2 linked regions of the Homo sapiens genome follow. Each later gene encodes a partner of the first gene's protein in a complex. Links are inferred from orthologs where the notes say so. Each region holds a gene or a part of one and is shown in the gene's direction. Other genes may lie near its edges. The genes, in order: PFN2 and VASP.

What was found.
Region 2: the proteins of PFN2 (region 1) and VASP are in contact, whole or in part, in a crystal structure (PDB 2V8C), measured with the Mus musculus proteins. The link is inferred for Homo sapiens from one-to-one orthologs. Residues at the interface, in NP_062283.1 of Mus musculus: Gly3, Trp4, Ser6, Tyr7, Asn10, Cys13, Tyr30, Trp32, Met131, Tyr134, Ser138, Phe140; in NP_033525.2 of Mus musculus: Gly165, Pro166, Pro167, Pro168, Pro169, Pro170, Gly171, Pro172, Pro173, Pro174, Pro175, Pro176.

What each region holds. Positions count from the first base shown.
Region 1 is NC_000003.12:149,964,404-149,968,187, reverse strand, and holds the end of PFN2 (profilin-2), read left to right. Parts: intron 1-1,601; coding exon 1,602-1,699; 3' UTR 1,700-1,923; coding exon of another isoform or gene 1,924-2,021; 3' UTR 2,022-3,284; downstream 3,285-3,784. UniProt on the Homo sapiens protein: Binds to actin and affects the structure of the cytoskeleton. At high concentrations, profilin prevents the polymerization of actin, whereas it enhances it at low concentrations. By binding to PIP2, it inhibits the formation of IP3 and DG.
Region 2 is NC_000019.10:45,510,347-45,517,638, forward strand, and holds part of VASP (vasodilator-stimulated phosphoprotein), read left to right. Parts: intron 1-7,292. UniProt on the Homo sapiens protein: Ena/VASP proteins are actin-associated proteins involved in a range of processes dependent on cytoskeleton remodeling and cell polarity such as axon guidance, lamellipodial and filopodial dynamics, platelet activation and cell migration.

The sequences.
Region 1 (3,784 bases):
CTATGACCTGGCCTCTTAGATCCTGATTTTGTTTCTACGATAGAATATTCGTATGAACTCACTTTCAGCTTTATTAAACTTAAAAGTCTCTTAAACTGCTTGACATGTCAAATCATAATCCTGTGGTGTTTCAGATTGTTAAATTGTTCGAATCACTTGGTTATTTTAGTCCCTTTTGGTGTGTGTTTGACCTTTGGATCTCTTTTCTTTTTTTTCTTGCTTGTATTCTAACCATTTCACTACTCAGCATAAAGAAGGAAAAATTAACATCCGTTCATTTTTCAGTTAGGAACTTTGCTGGGGAAAAGATAATTAGATGAGGATTTTGGAGTAAGTTGTCCATTCACTGAAATATTTTCAAAGATTGTGTCTGAGACTTAGATTTGAAAAGTAGGAAATTACATTTAGTTTGTATACTTGGTCCAGAAATTCAGGTGTCTCCAGACTGTTGTCAGCATTATAGAAACTCTTAATTGCACTAAAGAAGTCTCCCTACTTTTTCAAAATAAACTTTTGAAATTGAGTTTTATTATGACATCTAATTGATTTACAAATACATTTTAATGTGTTAACGCATACGAATATTTTGTAAATAGAGAGTGCTTCTGTAGCCTCACATAGCTGACTTGGCACATCTAATTTTAATAACAGCTCTACCATGTGAGGGGAGTTGAAGCTGCTGTGAGTTATAATTAATGCTATGGCTCTACCAGCTCCCTGTGATTATCCTAAAAGTTACTCGTATTCTGGTGTGAGTTGATGTTTATAAGGATTTATAAGAAAATTAGATGACTTTGAAATAGTGACAAATCTCTTTAAACCTTAGCTGCACTATACGCTGAAAAGAAGCGTCAAACACAAGACAAAAAACCAGAATATTTTATACGATACAGCACTACTGACATCTAGTGGTAGTGAATATAAAATTTGACATATACATATATTTTGGGTTATACACCTTTGAATTGCATCATAGAAGAGCAATTAGAAATCGTAAACCTATTTTTTTAGACGCAATTAAAAACAAGGCTACTACGGTGAAGTTATCAGTAAGCAAACACCTTAAATAATTTAATTTGGCCTTTTCTGAATGATACTGAGTATGCTACTTAAAATTTGATCTTCATTTTCCTCTGGAAATAATAGATACATTTAGCCTCACTGGTAAAACTTAATAGTTTAAACTTATCAAGCATGTTAAAATTTGGGGAGAGTTTGTAAGTAAGTAACTCCCCAGGTTTATTAAGTTTATATTTTGGGGGCAAGTAATAACATGTACTTGACATCAGCCAGAATTTTTTTGCCCTAAAATAGAAGACAAATGGTCACTTTTTTTTTTTTCTGTAGCTAGTGTAAAGATAGTTGTATAGAACTTTTGCTTGCATTGATTGGCTTCCAAGATGCAGTCAAGTTTACTATTTTCTGTTTAGTATATTACTAGTTTGAAAGTTCTTTTTGGAAACCTACTTGACTTCAGTGCTTGGCAGTTCATGGAAAACTAACTTAATGTTAACTTATTAATCCGGGTTCTGTCTGCTAAAACTTATGTGACTTTCTTGATTAACACTTCTTTTGAAACACTTTTCTTCTTTCTCTTTCAGTCTTGGTCTTTGTAATGGGAAAAGAAGGGGTCCATGGAGGCGGATTGAATAAGAAGGCATACTCAATGGCAAAATACTTGAGAGACTCTGGGTTCTAGCTGCTAGGCAGACTGTTAAGTATTAGGGGAAAATTGCTCTTAAACTTTCCTAGCTATAAGCTTAAGTCTTAATTCTGGAAATTTTATTAGCAATGCAGGGTGATGGGGTATGAACCTGTGTCTCCTTTGTATCCCTCTGTTGGTGGGGAAAGGTGTCTTTCTTTCTGCCCTCCCCCCCCAAAATAATTCTGTTCACTTTTGTTTTGTTTCCTTGTGTACTCCAGCATTGGTTATAGTCATGGGAAAGGAAGGTGTCCACGGAGGCACACTTAACAAGAAAGCATATGAACTCGCTTTATACCTGAGGAGGTCTGATGTGTAAGCAGCCTCTCCCCATCTACCTAGCAACTGTCTTCATCAACAACCCTAATTATGGTCACAATGCTACCAAACTGTAGATGGTAGCTAATTTTTCTTTACCTATTTTCTAATGTCATGATTCCTGTTTGCCCAATGGATCATTTGTATGTTAACCACTGTATGTAACCAACCCTTATCTGGCAACATAATTGCAGCACAATAATGATTTGCATGATACCTTGAAATTGGGGGGAGGGGGCATGCCAAGTTGGGCATCACTTTGTCTTAGCAATTAATGGGATATTGATTACTAAAATAAGTTAATATTAAGCAAGGTGCCGGTTGTACAATCTCTGATCAGTGTCTTTTCAGCACTTTGAGCATTTACTTGGCTCATTTAGTCTTCCTTTTGTAGCGCATGGTTGGGAGGAAAAAGTGCATGCATCATTCCTTCACTCTTCTCTTTTTCCCGCCCCCCCTCCCTTCGCACATAGGCATTTGGTTTGCTTCCATCTTTTTTTATGCAGTGCCTGTTTTTTTTTAACCAATTAAAATCCCTTTTGTTGATGAGCTATTGAGAGCTGCAGTAGTTTGCTTTTAGTATTGTTGTTGCACTTGAGCAGAGACAAACCTTTATTCATAGTGTCTACAGGACATATGAAGAGTGCAATGGCAAAACAAGAGCAAAAAGCACTTCCTCCCATGACCTTACAGTAACCATACTGATTGAATCCCCAGGGACATTCCATCATTGCAATAGCTCAGATTTTTCTTCCTTTTTCTTTGCACACCAGCTCTACTCTTTAGTAAAATTGTAAAAGGCTGCCATTATGGACATTAGGTATCCCAACATAACCATCTGGAGTGTGTCCAGTTTGTTCTTCATAGGACCAATTTTTATTTGCAGCTTGAGTTTTTATATGAAGTTGCATTATTGTGGACTTGGCTGTCTTGTGATGAATTTTTTTCATATGTATTCTGTGCCATACTATTGTTAAAATGAACTGTTGCTATTGTGAGATGGATTTTAACTGACCTATTAAGGGTTTCTTTCGAATGGCACTACTTTAGGGACATTCTAGTATTTGCTTCTATTGTTTGGGCCTTGTGGATAATGTACAGATTTAAAAACAAATCTTGTTGCTGATTTGTCCATTTCTTTCCCTGCACTTTGTTACATCTGGGATACAGTCTAACTCATCTGATTTAATATGCATTTAAAAAAATGCCATAACTATTAAACACCTTGTTTACAGACAGATGAAATAAATTTATTCCAACCAAATACTCTAGGCTCCTGTTGTTTATATACATTGTTTATATAAACTGTTAAAAGTTGATTTTTGACAAAGTGGGAATACACAGAATAGGCCAAAGTCTGCTGCAAGCATAAAACTTCAGCAATATTAGGTGATGGCCTACTTCAAGTAATATTACAGATAAAATTAGTGCCTGGGAATTTCTTTTTAATGGACTCTGATCTGTTACACATAGCTTTTAGTCATTTCAGGCTCATCTTCAGGAGTATGTGAGAAGCAACTGACTTATCTGCTAGAAAATAAGTATTTTCCTCTTCTTGCTGGTTTCTAGATGTGAAATCTAATAGTAAAGGGAGTACCAAGAAGGGTTTCTGCACTATTGTGGATTTTTCTGTATTGAAATGTCATATGACTTTAGATTTGGAAGCTGTGTTGGCAGGCTGAAGTCAGCCAGCTGGGGCCCTCCCACATAAGAGCAGAAGACATTCCTTAGGCAGCATATAAGATAATTGGGATGCTTTTGCAT
Region 2 (7,292 bases), on another chromosome or scaffold:
TTCCGAGTAGCTGGGACTACAGGTGCCTGCCACCATGCCCGGCTAATTTTTATATTTTTAGTAGAGATAGGGTTTCACCGTGATGGCCAGGCTGGTCTCGAACTCTTAACCTCAGGTGATCCACCCGCCTCGACCTCCTAAAGTGTTATTATTACAGACGTCAGCCACCACACCTGGCCCCTCATGGCAGTTCGAACAATGATACTATTACAACCTTGTGGCCTCCCCACCCCGGTACTCAGTTTATAGATGGGGAAACTGAGGCACAGGAAAGTTAGGCAAGGTGCCTATTAAACTCAAACAGGGCCAGGCGCCGGGGCTCATGCCTGTAATCCTAACACTTTGGGAGGCCAAGGCAGAAGGATCGCTTGAGCCCAGGAGTTTGAGAACAGCCTGGGCAATATGGTGTAACCCCGTCTCTACAAAATATACAAAAATTAGCTGGGTGTGGTGGCATGCGCCTGTAGTTCCAGCTACTCTGGAGGCTGAGGCGAGAGGATCGTTTGAGCTGGGGAGGTTGAGGCCGCAATGAGTCATATTCTTGCCACTGCACTCCAGCCTGGGTGACAAAGTGAGACCCTGTCTCAAAAAAAAAAAAAAAATAGAGATAACATGCTTTCCGTGTTCTTAATGAAGAAAAAGAAAAAAAAAAAGGAACGTGCTTTCACTGTGAAAACTCTTAAGATAATTCAGATAAGCCAAATGAAACCGAAGCTGCAACATTTATCTTCCTATTCACTTATGGGAAACTGAGGCCCACCAGGAGGAAGGGACTAGAGTAGCCCCATCCCCGACAAAAGAAGATTTGTCGTTTGGAAGGGTGGTGTATATGTATCATAGGTTTTATGGTATAAGGAGGGTATGGGCTAAGTCTTGGGTTCAGGGGACAGTGAAGGGAAGGGTAAGACTGCAAGTTTTGTGAAAACCGGATTCACCATGCTTGATTACCTCTGGTGATGGGAAGCTCTCTCCTTCATGTGGAGCGTGTACCAAGTTACAGTTCCTGCGTTTAGGGCTTTTTGTCCATTATCTCTTTTAATCCTTACAATGAACCCAGTGAGTTATTGTTTCCAGGGCTGGAAACTGAGTTTCAGAGAGGCAAAGCCACACAACAAGGAGGCAACTTGAACCGTCTTTTCATCCGCCATGTGCTAGAGTTTTCCAAAATGTGGGGACTTGCAGGGAGGAGTGGGTCCTGGGCTGGCTGGAAAATTAAAGTGTTCTCATGTCCAATGGAGGGTTCTAGACTTCGGGAAAACACACTGGAAATGGGCAGAACTCCTTTCCATCTCACAGCCCCCGCACCCCCGTTTTATGGCTATGGGATTTTCGTTCTGGCTTTTGTGTAGTTTACAGTTTTATTTATTGAACTTAAGTAGTGAGTTAGGTTTTTATAGGTAATTTCAACCCATGATAAGAAAACAAATAATAAGCAGTTTGAAATACTTACTGAAATTATTGAAATGGTGGCTGGGCCTGGTGGCTTATGCCTGTAATCCCAGCACTTTGGGAGGTCGAGGCAGGCAGATCACCTGAGGTCAGGAGTTTGAGGCCAGCCTGGCCAATGTGGCAAACGCCCAAACCCCATCTCTACTGAAAATAGAAACATTAGCCTGGCGTGGTGGCACACGTTTGTAATCCCGGACACTCAGAAGGCTGAGGCAGGAGAATCGCTTGAACTCGGGAAGTGGAGGCTGGGAGGCTGAGGCAGGAGAATTGCTTGAACCTGGGAGGTGGAGGCTGCAGTAAGCTGAGATTACACCACTGCCAGCCTGGGTGCAGAGTGAGAGACTCTGTCTCAAAAGATAAATGGTACAAAATATTTGTTTCTTCCCTCCCCAGTTCCTGAGTTCCCCTCAATGGAGGCAGCCACAGTTAGTGTCTTGGGAAACAGTCTCTGCATATATCACCACTCTGAGTGCAGATATATTTATATATGCTCCTCACTGTTTTTTTTTTTGAGATGGAGTCTTGCTCTGTCGCCCAGGCTGGAGTGCAGTGGCGCGATCTCAGCTCACTGCAACCTCCACCTCCCAGGTTCAAGCAATTCTCCTGCCTCACCTCCTGAGTAGCTGGAATTACAGGCACGCGCCACCACGCCCAGCAAATTTTTCTATTTTTAGTAGAGACAGGGTTTCACCATGTTGGTCAGGCTGGTCTCAAACTCCTGACATCAAGAGGTCCGCCTGCTTCGGCCTCCCAAAGTGCTGGGATTACAGGCTTGAGCCACTGCGCCTAGCCTACCTTTTTTGTTTGTTTGTTTTTGTTTTTGAGACGGAGTCTTGCTCTGTCCCCCAGGCTGGGGTGCAGTGGCGTGATCTTGGCTCACTGCAACCTCCGCCTCCTGGGTTCACGTGATTCTCCTGCCTCAGCCTCCCAAGTAGCTGGGATTACAGGCGCCCGCCACCACGCCTGGCTAATTTTTTGTATTTTTAGTAGAGACGGGGTTTCGCTATGTTGCCCAGACTGGTCTCAAACTCCTGACCTTGTGATCCGCCTGCCTTGGCCTCCCAAAGTGCTGGGATTACAGGCATGAGCCACCGCACCCGACCTTTTTTTTGGTTTTGTAAAGCCTCTGATCAACACTACCTTGTACTTTGGCTTTTAAAAATTTCAATTTAGCTCTGCTTCTTCATCTTTAAATGAAGTTAAGAACTTGTGGGAACTTCGTTTCAACTATGAGCCCCTCTGCTTACTTGCTGTGTGATCTGGGGCAAGTGCCTTCACTCCTCTGTGCCTGCAATTCCCCCTTGTCAAAAGGGTGAGCGTCAGAGCCTATCCCATGAGGTTGTAGAGTCATGCAGCAGGGAAATTGGTGTCAAGCACCAAGAAGAGTGTCTGGGACCCAGGCTGACTGAGAAATGTTAGGTGTCCTAGGTAAAAGTTTGCCTTTTTTTGTGAGGGAGTCTTGCTCTGTGAGGGAGTCTTGCTCTGTTGCCCAGGCTGGAGTGCAAGTGACCTGAACAAGGCTCACTGCAGCCTCATCCTCTTGGACTCAAGTGATCCTCCTGCCTCACCCTCCTGAGTAGCTGGGACTACAGGCAAGCGCCACCACACCCAGCTAATTTTAAAGTTTTTTGTACAGACGGAGGTCACCATCTTGCCCAAGCTAGTCTCTCTCCTTTTTTTTTTTTTTTTTTTTTGAGACAGAGTCTCGCTCTGTCTCCCAGACTGGAGTGCAGTGGTCTGAGATCGGCTCACTGCAACTGCCTCCTGGGTTCAGTGATTCCCCTGCCTCAGCCTCCTGGGTAGCTGGGATTACAGGCATGAGCCACCATGCCTGGCTAATTTTTGTATTTTTAGTAGGCATAGGGTTTCACCATGTTGGCCAGGCTGGTGTCGAACTCTTGACCTCAAGAGATCCACCTGCTTTGGCCTCCCAAAGTTCTGGGATTACAGGCATAAGCCACCACACCCAGCCTTCCCAAGCCAATCTCAAACTCTTGGGCTCAAGTGATCCTCCTGCCTCAGCCTCCCAAAGTGCTGGGATTACAGGCGTGAGCCACCTCCCCTGGCCAAAGTTTGCCTTTTTTTACAGATGTTTCGTAACTATTGAGTCCCTACTATGTGTTGGACGCCATTCTAGGTTCTGGGGACACAGCAGTGAACAACTGGGACACAAATTTCTGCCTTTTTGGCAGCGGAGACAGACAAATATTGTGTTGGGCAGGGGTCACTGCTATGAAATGTGCAGCAGGGGATGAAAAGGAGAGAAGCGTTTCCAGCTAAGGGAGTGAGGGACGGCTTCTTGGAAGGGGTGACATCTAAGGAGAGACCTGAAAGTGGGGAGAGGCTAGGCCTGAGGAAGAAGCAGCACACAGGCCCGAGGCAGGAATGTGTCTGGCCTGCGGGAAGAGCAGCATGGGGGTAGGAGGTCTAGGGTCTGGAACAGAGTCCCCAAGGGACAGTGGAGCGGGAAGAAATGAGATCTGAGGACACACAGATCACGGAGGCCCTGGAGAGAACTTGGCATTGATTCCGTAGGAGCCTGGAGCCTTCAAGAAGAAGAAGAGACATCCCACCTTGTAGGTTTTTGTTAGTTTGTTTTGTTTTTTAGAGATGGGGGGTCTCACTGTGTTGCCCAGGCTGGTCTTGAACTTCTGGACTAAAGCAATCCTCCCGCCTCGGCCTCTCAAAGTGCTGGGATTACAGGCATGAGCCACCGTTCCCCGCCCCACCTCGTGTTTTAACAGGATCCTTCTGTTACAATGGGTATAGTGTTCCCTGGAGAGGGGCAAGACCACCCCTTGGTCACCCAGCAGGCGCCCTGTTCTCCGGCCAGTCCAGAGCCTCAGTAGGGCAGGGCTGCCTGGGAGAGCAAAGTGCAGCCAGGGCGGGGCAGCAGCAGCCCCGGGCTCCTGGCCAGAGTCGGCCCTGGGTGTGGGTGGCAGGTGTGGGTGAGGCCGAGGCCTTAACCCTGCCTTGCCAGGGGCAGCAGGAGCCAGAAACAGCCCCCGAGGCTGTGTTTGTCTGGAAAGGGCACCTGGTGTTTGGGTGGGGCCCACACAGTTCCCGGTGGTTAAGGCTTGGAAGCCTGAATTCACATCTTCACTCTATTCCTCAGTAGCTGTGTGACTGTGGGCAAGTCACTCAACCTCTCTGGGCCTCTAGTCCTCACCTGCAAAATTAGAATGAGTGGCTCTCTGGATAAGCTGCAGTGAGAATAAAATGAGTGACTTTGGGGGAGGGGCTTAAGGCCCCTGATCCACCTGAAATGCCTAGTAAGAGGGAGATGGCACAATTAGGTAAATTTGAGGGTCCCTACCCCAGGTCCCTACCCACAGCTGAGTCTGCCTAGGGACTTTCCCTGCCCTGACTTCCCAGCATCAGTGTCACACCCAGCCCCCAGCCCTCCTAGAGACAGAGGCTTTGCGGGGGGTGTCTAATTTCTGTCCCCGGAAACCTCTGACCACCAACTTCCCCATTTCAGGAAAAAGCCTGGTGTGGGTGGGGTGGGGAGGAGACCAGTGCTTCCCCTTCCCCTGTGTGACCTTGGGCAAGTCACTTCCTGTTTGAGTTCCTGTCTAGGCCTGAGTTTCCTCACTGGGGGAGAGGGGATTGAACCTCCCAGAGGGGCTGGTGGGAGGGTCCCGAGGGTTGTAGCTGTCCCGGGCCCCAGTGGTGCCCATGAGAGGGATGTTGACAGTTACTGAGCTCTCGGCGTGTGCTGGACGCTGTACCAAGCACTTAGCTTTTTTTCTTTTTTTTGAAACAGAGTTTCACTCTGTCGCCCAGGCTGGAGTGCAATGGCGTGATCTCAGCTCACTGCGGCCTCCACCTCCTGGGTTCAAGCGATTCTCCTGCGTCAGCCTCCTGAGTAGCTCAGACTACAGGTGCACACCACCACGCCCAGCTAATCTTTGTACGTTTTTGTAGAGACGGGATTTCACCATGTTGCCCAGGCTGGTCTCGAACACCTGAGCTCAAGCGATCCATTCACCTCAGCTTCCCAACATGCTGTAATTACAGGCGTGAGCCACCACACCCGGCTGTACCAAGCCCTTTAGGTGCCCAGATTCATGTGCCCCTCCCCCACTGCCCTGGAGGTGGGGACTGTCATTTTCCCAGTTCACAGGCAAGAAGAGGTCTTGAGTGGGAAGGTCATGTGCCTGAGTCACATGAAGTAGGTGGCTCAGTGGGGATTTGAACCCAGGTCTGGGGATATCAGCTCCTGAACTCTGCACCAGTTTACTGACACCTCCCACCCAGGCTAAGTCAGACGTTGCCTTTTCCAGGAAGTCCTGCCTGACTCTCCAGGCTGGGGCAGGCGTTCCTTCAGGGTACCCCCAGACCCTGGGCTCCTTGGTCCTAAACCTGGGTTGGTACCGTCTGGGGACAGCTGTGTCTCCCACACTGGACTGTGAGCCCCAGGAGGGTGGTGCCGGAGCTGTCTGGGTCACTGCTGTGTCTTCATCCCCAGCCCCACCCAATATAGGCCAGACACAGAGCAGGGAGTATCTGGGGAATGGCCGCTAGTGCCCTGGGGAGCCAGGCGAGGGGTGGGCAGCGGGAAGTCCCTTTGGAGGAAGAGCTCAGAGGTCTGGGATGGGTCCCCAACCTGCTGCAGGCCTCACACTTCCCCTCCCAAGCCTCAGCTTCTTCCTGAGCAGGCAGTGGTGGAGGGGGGTGCGTAGAGATAGGGAAACTGAGGTCAGGCAGGGGCTGGTCCCTAGTGCAGCTCTGGGCTCTTGGCCTCCTTCTGGCCCCTCTGTCTTCCCTCCTGCCCTCTGCTCTGCTAACCCGCATCCCCCCACTGGCATTGGCCTCGGCCTCTTACACCCCTCAGCCTGTCTCTCCATCTTTATCTTTTCCTTCTTATTAGTTTTGTTGTGTTGTGTTTTTTATTTTTCATTAAAAAAGTTTTTTTGTGGACTGGGTGTGGTGGCTCACCCCTGTAATCCCAGCACTTTGTGGGGCTGAGGCAAATGGATCACTTGAGCCCAGGAGTTCGAGACCAGTCTGGCCAACATGGTGAAACCTCGTCTCTACTAAAAATACAAAAAATTAGCTGGGCTTGGTGGTGCATGCCTGTGATTCCAGCTACTCAGGAGGCTGAGGCGGAGAATGGCTTGAACCTGGGAGGCAGAGGTTGCGGTGAGCCGAGGACAGCCCGGGTGACAGAGTAAGACTCTGTCTCAAAAAAAAAAAAAAAAAAAAAAAGATTAGTCGGGTGTGGTGGTGCATGCTTGTAGTCCCAGCTACTTGGGAGGCTGAAGTGGGAGGATCGCTTGAGCTCAGGAGGTCGAGGCCACATTCCAACCTGGGTGACAGAGAGCAAGACTCTGTCTCAAAAACAAAAATAAAAATAATAATAATAATTATTATTATTAGAGATGGGGTCTCACTATGTTGCCCAGGCTGCTCTGAAATGCTTGGGCTCAAGTGATCCTCCTGCCTCAACCTCCAAAGTGCTGGGATTACAGGTGTGAGACACCACGCCAAGACCATCTTTATCTCTTTCTGTGTCTGCCTCTTCCTCCAGGTCCCCTGTCTGCCCATCCTTTTTCCCCACCCCTCCCCCATCTGTTCATCTGTCTGTCTGCCTTCAGTCTGTCTCTCCTCTTTGTCAACCCGACTCTCCCTTTCCCACCTCTCTCTGCGTCTGTCTCTTGCATCTCGTTTGTGTGTTTGCCTGTCTCTCCTGATCTGATTTTCTCTCCTGATCTGTCTCCCCCGTCTCCTTCTGTCCACGTGGCTCCTGCCTCCCTCTGTGTCACTCTCTTCCTTCCACACACTGTCTTTGTCCCTTGGAATCTCCCAGGAGAGACCCAGATAAGAAGGTGACCGGCCCC